Homo sapiens: one gene and its partner. The protein of the gene in region 1 purifies or fractionates together with the protein of each later gene. This does not show direct contact. Each region holds a gene or a part of one and is shown in the gene's direction. Other genes may lie near its edges.

Region 1 (3,823 bases):
TTTTAAATGGAAATAACATCTTACCTGGGCCCCAAACTACTTACAAAATGGTTTCCAGGTATTTTGCATATGTTTACATGAATCATCTCACTAAGATCCTGAGAGTGATGTGAATTCTGGCCTCACTGTCTGTGCAGCCCAGGGCTCCATGCACTGGAATTACTTCCCCATCATGGGAGTGTGTGCCAGAGCCCTTCTTTTCTGGCAGCCCTTGTAAGTTTAAAAGAAAAACGGGAGCTGAATGGGTTTGATAAGGACATTGAGATAATGGAGTAAATTAGAATTCGGAGATAAGATGAAAGCTATTATGTAATTATTGAAAGTATAATTAAGTAAACAGTATTGTTTTCTAACTTACTTTAAATGTCACTAAATGTATCCATTTAATAATTTAGCTAATTAGGGTCTTCAGTTATTTTGTGTAACAGATAAATACAGGAAGAGAAAAGAAGGTGCTTGTGGTGATACCCTTTGGTTAGTGATTCCTCTGTAGAAATAGCAAAAGACATATGTGATTGCCAAGAAGGAAATTATCCAGGGCCAGTCAATATCAACTGGACCAATGAGTCACAAGTGACCAGGAGACACCTTATATTGTGTTTAGAGAGAAAGCAATAATTCCATGAGACTTCCTTTGAGTACTGGTATAAAAACCAAGCTTCACTTGTTCCTTTGTTAAGGATTCTGTATACAGTAAGATTAGCTGTTCATACCATTCATTTATACACATAATGGATTGTGAAATGTTAATCCTTAGCTATATGCAGGTGACCAGTATGTCCTGGGTTTTTTAAATCAGTAGTGCATAATCAGAACTGGCTACATCCTTAGCAGGGCTCAGAGCAAAATAAAAATGCAGTGCCCTGTTTTTAAAATTATTAAGGATTTTAGGATGATGACAGAAGAGAATAAAACCCTGGGCATGGGACCCTGTGCGGCTGCACAGATTGCATACCCACGGAGCCAGCCCTGCATTTGATAGCTGTCAGATGTAAAGGCAGACTTCTATTTATATATGCAGCTTTCAGTCAATTGCATGAATGTGTAAATTGTCAAAGAGAAATGTGATGGCCAGGTCCTTACTGTGAGTAAAGGACCAGGAACAGGACCAAAGTTTGAAAGGACTAAAGAAAGCCCCTTCTAACATTACAGCTCTATGTCTCTTGGTTATCTTCAGCCCATTTTCCCTTCAGTTCCTAAAGAAAACCATAGGATAGAATTATATCCTATAATTATAGGCCATATAGGTAACAGGAGGATATGACTTATGTGATATATATTCTTCTTGTAAAAATAATGTCAGGTATTTATCGGGGACTGCAGGGTGGGCCTTCTTCCTCTCCTAGATGAAGAACTGAGGTTCAGACAGCTAATTATGGAAGATAATTAGCTGGGATAATTATGGAAGATAATGCAGCTGGGATCCAAGTTCTTCATCACTCTAGTCCACTGCCTGTCTCATAGGATTCCAGTTGATCCTGCAAGACAAGAGTAGCTTACAAAGGGTTTGCATATACCTTAATCTCATATCTCATTCCCAGTAGCACCCTTGTGAAATTGGCAGTGTTATCCCCAATTTACACACAGGGAAACAGAACTTCAGAGAAGTTATGTCATGTTGCAAGGTCTTAAGATAGCAAATGGCAGAGCTAAAACTAAAGTCTGCTTTTCAAGTCATGAGTCCAGCCATGTTTTCTCTGCTCCCTACTTTGGGGACCCAGCTACTTCCCCTACATATGCCATTCCTTTTCAATCTAACTCTATTGGTTTAATTCTTTTCCACTAGACTTTGTTTAACAGATGTTGCATTTCCCAGAGGAAAAGTGAATCTCCTCTACACTCTAAATAGCTAAAAGTATTATTGATGAAAGGACTTCAATTCCCTATAGAATTTTAGTTCTAGAAGCATATCTGAATAATGTAGGGGTTTTCTTAAGTGCAGTGAGAGGTAATTGAGGAAGTGGAGGAGGAAGCTGCCAAGAGTCAGAGTTCTCTCAAAGATGACTCCAACTTCTACAATTGACCTTGCTAGAAACAAGAAAATGAGACTTAGATATTGGGCCAGGACAGCTCAGGAATTATATCTTCCATTGGGAAAGGCTTCCTGTACCTATGTTACTATGAAATGTTACAGCTTAGTTTCATGCATATGGCTGGTGTGATCCAGTTACTTATTTTAAAAAGAGAGTTGATTTCCTTTGTTTATATGCTGGCAGTGAAAAACAGAATGACAGTTCGACTTAAGAATGAGGGCTTGTTCTCAGTACAGAAACAGAAGTAGCCTAGTTCAAGAAGTGCGGACCACCGCTTTGTACAATGGTCTCCAAACTTTGGTCACTTCATCAGGAAATAGTATGAGCACTTCTCTCCATACATAGTTATTTGTAAAGTATACATGCTTCTGCTATTGTACTCTAAAACGTGCTGTATTATATACCAAAAAAGTCCAAAAAATGAGAAAAAATAAATAGAAATAGGAGTTCTAATATTCTTTTTGCTTCCCCAGTGAATGTCTTGCTCACTTCACTTTAAAAAAACACTGCTTTCTGTGTTTTTGTTTTTGTTTTTGTTTTTGTTTTTGTTTTTCGGGTTTTTTGAGACAGAGTCTTTCTCTGTCGCTGAGGCTGGAGTACAGCAGTGCAATCTCGGCTCGCTGCAATCTCTGCCTACTCTGTTCAAGTGATTTTCCTGCCTCAGCCTCCTGAGTAGCTGGGATTACAAGTGTGCACCACCACGCCCAGCTAATTTTTGTATTTTTAGTAGAGATGGGGTTTCGCCATGTTGGCCAGGCTGGTCTCACTCTCCTGACCTCAAGTGATCCACCTGCCTCAGCCTCTCAAACTGCTGGTATTACAGGAATGAGCCACCACACCCAGCCAGAAAACACTGCTTTCTAAAGAATATGCATCTAGCCAGAACTTTGTGTTTTAACATTTTCGATTAAAAATTGAAATTATATATCTGACATTAACTTAATGATCATCATTTACTTTCATACAGCCCTTATCAATTCCAAAAAGCTATTTTCTTTCATCTAAGTCACAATCACTTGGGAATTTATTAAAATGCAAATTGATGGGCCCCACCAGAGAGCTACATAACAAGAAATTCCTGTGGGAGGAGCCCAGGCAGCCTTTATTTTAACTAGCCTATGTTTTTAACCAGATGATTCTGATGTACACTTAAGTTTTAGAACCCCCATCTATGGCCTGGTGCCATGGCATGCGCCTGTAGTCCTGGCTACTCGGGAGGCTGAGGTGGGAAGATAGCTTAAGCCAGGAGTTTGAGACCAACCTGGGCAACATAGTTAGACCCCACCCAGGTGATTAGGTCAATTGAATCTGACTTTTGTCAACAAATTCTTCTAATATGTTTTTTAAATGCACAAAATGTCAAAGTTGAGATTTAATGATGCTTTTTACAATTTCAGGATTTACTTCAGATGCAATATGAAGGAGTAGCTGTAATGAAAATGTTTGATAAGGTTAAAGTGAATGTAAACCTTCTCATATACCTGCTGAACAAGAAGTTCTATGGAAAGTGAAGTGCCTACAGAAATTTCTTGGATTCTGTATCATCTGGATTAGGAAATGAATTTGTTTAATATTTTTGTTTTTAAACATGATTGAAATCACTGCTTATAAATGTGTGATTTTTTTAAAACGACCAAAACTGTTCTGAAGAATGTACCCAGGTGCCTTTTTGCTAATTTGATACTATAATAGAATGAGACATAAAATGAATTAATGGAAACATATCCACACTGTACTGTGATATAGGTACTCTGATTTAAAACTTTGGACATCCTGTGATCTGTTTTAAA
Region 2 (3,823 bases), on another chromosome or scaffold:
GCGTGTCCCTTCCCTGCAATGAATTGGTAAATATTGCTGCAGGAAATCTGATTGGAGGGCTATTAAGAAACCATTAAAGGCCAGGCATGGTGGCCCACACCTGTATGTAATCTTAGCACTTTGGGAGGCCGAGGCAGGAGGATCACTGGAGTCCAGGAGTTGGAGACCAGCCTGGGCAACATGGGGAGACCCCGTCTCTACAAAAAATAAAAAAATCATCCAGGCATGGTGGTGCATGCCTGTGTTCCCAGCTACTCAGGAGGCTGATGTGGGAAGGTCACTTGAGCCCCAGAGTTGGAGGCTGCAGTGAGCTATGATCACGCCACTGCACTCCAGCCTGAGTGACAGAGCAAGACCTTGTCTCGAAGAAAAAAAAGAATCCATTAAAATTCAAATTGCCATAGTCTGACCTTTTGGGCTGCATCTGATTATAGTTACAGGGTCTGTCATTTTACCTGGGCAGAACTCCCTGAGTATTAGTTATACAGTTTGTGAAAGAGCTTTGCTGGTCTGTATTTAAGTGTCTTAGTCCATGTGCTCTCTTTCATTGCAGACGAACAGGAGGCATTGAACTCAATCATGAACGATCTGGTGGCCCTCCAGATGAACCGACGTCACCGGATGCCTGGATATGAGACCATGAAGAACAAAGACACAGGTCACTCAAATAGGCAGGTGTGTGTGACCCTGGCAGAGCTAAGTGAGATTTGTTGGGGAGGGGTTTTCAAATGGGAAATATACGAAAAGCCAAGGAGACTACATTACCAGGGTTGAATGCTTTTGACCCCTTCCTTTCACAGTCTGTTAAATGGGAAGTAATACATACCAACCAGGTATGGTTAAATGGTAAGTGATATTGGGAGGCCGAGGCAGGCGGATCACCTGAAGTCAGTAGTTTGAGACCAGCCTGGCCAACATGGTGAAACCCTGTCCCTACTAAAAAACACAAAATTAGCCAGGTGTGGTGGTCCATGCCTGTAGTCCCAGCTACTCAGGAAGCTGAGACAGGAGAATCGCTTGAACCTGGAAGGCAAAGGCTGCAGTGAGCCGAGATAGCACCACTGCACTCCAGCCTGGGCAAGACAGAGTGAAACTCTGTCTCAAAAAAAAAAAAAAAGTTATATATGCCATGCAGTTATGGATCTATGATTTGGAGTCTTAAAGCCTTGTGTAAGCATTTCATCTGTTATGGGGACAGTATTCATATTCGTTTTTCCCCTTTACTGATATTTGGCAAATATTTAATTCAGATTCATGATCCCTAAGTCAGAAGGTTTTTAGCTACCTTACAGTATATAGTCAGGAAAAACTAATTAATTTGGTATTAGCTTATGTAAAATATAATTAAGAAGGTAAATTTATTAATTAAAATGTCACCTAGTATATTCTGAAGGCAATAATGAGTGATTTTGTTATTACTGTTTACAGTTATTTTACCTTATTAACCTTATTGATAGTGCCTGTTTTATTGAGAGTTGTATGCTTCTTTAGGAAAACATTGCCTATTTTCCTTAACATTTAAACTTGTGTGTCATTGACAATCTTCTTCTCACCTGTAGTGCCACTTACCTGTTTCCTGGGTACTTTGTTCTGCAGAGAGGAGTGAATGATGGGGAGCTTTCCTACCTAGTGGGTATCCAGTGCTGTGTCAGCTAGCTATATTGGGCATGTTTGATGAAAATTTGTGTATGACATTCTCCCTTTTGGTTCTGTTTGTTATCAGCTAACCTCCTTTCTTCTCATTTGCACCTTGTTTACCAATTCTTCAGAATTGGTTCCTAGAGATAGTATAAGGCCCTAAAACTTTTCCTGTCTGTGGTCTGCTAGATAGAGCCTTCCAGAGTATTTCCTGCCTTTAGGAATCCTAGGGACCCCAAGGGAAGAGGAGTCCTTTTGTTTCATGTTAAAACAGAAGGATTAGTTTAAAAAGCTGCTTTTGTTGTTGTTACCTTATAGTACTGGAGGTATAAACAGATAAGGGCCCATTCTTACACTATTTTCATATGTTATTCAGTCTGACTGTGTGAGTTCTCCCTTGCTATAACTCATTTGTATTCAAAGCCACTTTTCGAAGGAGCATTTTACCAGAAGTGAGTCCCCTCCCCCTTGCTTGAGCCTAATGACCTCACTTTCCTTCCTGTCTTCCTATGTAGTGTGTGCTTGCTAACATTGCTCCAGTTAGCTGATCTTTCTCCAGACTGGACTATTAGCATGAATATCAGTTAGTGGGTGAAAAGGGGAAGCTTTCTTGAATTGGAAGGCCCAAAAGGACGAGGCTGGGAAAAGGAGGGGCGGAATGGTCACTGATGGTTCCTTGAAGGAGGATTCCTTTTTAGGACTCCTTCTGCTTAGAGCCTAAAAGCCATGATGAGGGAAGTCTTGATCTTTTGCTGTGCCTGCTGCTGCGCTGGTAGAGTGAAGTCAGTGGTTATGAAGGCAGAAGCCTAAAAAGGATTGACTGTTAGGAAGTAATCTTAACAAGAGGTACTAGATCTTTGGATCCATGATTTACTTCAATGTTGTCAAACTTATGTTGCACGAAGGATACAAATTATTAACCTCAGTTTTTTTGTTTTTAAAGAAAAAACACAACAGCAGCAGCTCAGCCCTTCTGAACAGCCCCACAGTAACAACAAGCTCATGTGCAGGGGCCAGTGAGAAAAAGAAATTTTTGGTAAGGATCCAGATTACCTGTTAAAGCCAAAATGTACTTTTAAATCTGCTACTCATGCTGCAACAGCAGAATTCACTTCCCAGACAAGTTGTTTTAGTGGATTTGTAAAAAGCATTGGTTACCCGTGACCTGTGTTCAGTGCTTCTAGTCACCATTTCTCACAACAGTATTATTCATAAACAGCCTCTATCAGTGCTGTCCAATAAACCTTCTGTGATGACAGAAATGTTTTATATCTCTGCTGTCCAATGTGGTTTTGTAGCCACTAGCTACATGTGGCTGTTGAGCAACTAAGGAACTAAATTTTAAATTTTATATCATTTTAATTAATTTAGACAGCCACATGTGGCTAGTGGCTATTGTATTGGACAGCATGACTTTATGCACTATGTAAGGGACTGTTGATTTATTGGGCAAGAAATTATGTATATGCTTGGAGATGTGTAGATATTCATTGGTATGTTCATTCCTTACACACGTCATGAGTTTCTGTACATTGTGATAAGCTAATAATGGGAATCCTACCTAAGATTTCTGTTTTAGGAAGAATGTGAAGATGTGGAACTAGAACAGCTGTTTAGAAATTGAAGCTCAAAGTTTTATGTTAATATGGGCAAAAGGGGAAATAAAATGCTAAGATAGCTTTTCCTCTTAATGAAGTCAAGGTTATAGAATGGCCTGTCCTGGGAAGTGTAGCAGATGTTTTGCTTCTGACCAAGAGGGATATTCTTCAGCAAAATTCTGAAAGCAGAAAAAGACAAAGTCTCAGCAAATGCATTTCTAGGAAAGATAGGGTAAGAGGTAGTGCGGGGAAGATGTTGGGGAGAGGTATTTATAGCCTAGTATAATGAAAGGAGCCTGGTGATATTAATAATCATTTAACATCGGATTTTATAATTCACAGAGTTACACATTTATTATTATTATTGTAGTTTTTGTTAGCCTAGGCCTGAGATAGAATGAAACAGTTTTCTTCATTACCAGTTCTTCTGCCAGAAAGTCCATGCTTAGGAAGAGAGAGGAATGAAAGATCAAAACCTAATTTAAATGGTGAAGAGTTGCCAAATTTGGTTAAGAAATGTCTAATTGGATTACAGATTCAAATTACAGAGTCCCAGTTGAAAGAAGCTAAGCATTTTGGCTAGCTGG

What was found.
Region 2: the proteins of IQGAP2 (region 1) and MAP3K3 purify together in Homo sapiens (tandem affinity purification; one large-scale study listed by IntAct). This does not show direct contact.

What each region holds. Positions count from the first base shown.
Region 1 is NC_000005.10:76,703,770-76,707,592, forward strand, and holds part of IQGAP2 (ras GTPase-activating-like protein IQGAP2), read left to right. Parts: intron 1-3,430; coding exon 3,431-3,544; 3' UTR 3,545-3,823. UniProt on the Homo sapiens protein: Binds to activated CDC42 and RAC1 but does not seem to stimulate their GTPase activity. Associates with calmodulin.
Region 2 is NC_000017.11:63,632,128-63,635,950, forward strand, and holds part of MAP3K3 (mitogen-activated protein kinase kinase kinase 3), read left to right. Parts: intron 1-553; coding exon 554-675; intron 676-2,581; coding exon of another isoform or gene 2,582-2,674; intron 2,675-3,823. UniProt on the Homo sapiens protein: Component of a protein kinase signal transduction cascade. Mediates activation of the NF-kappa-B, AP1 and DDIT3 transcriptional regulators.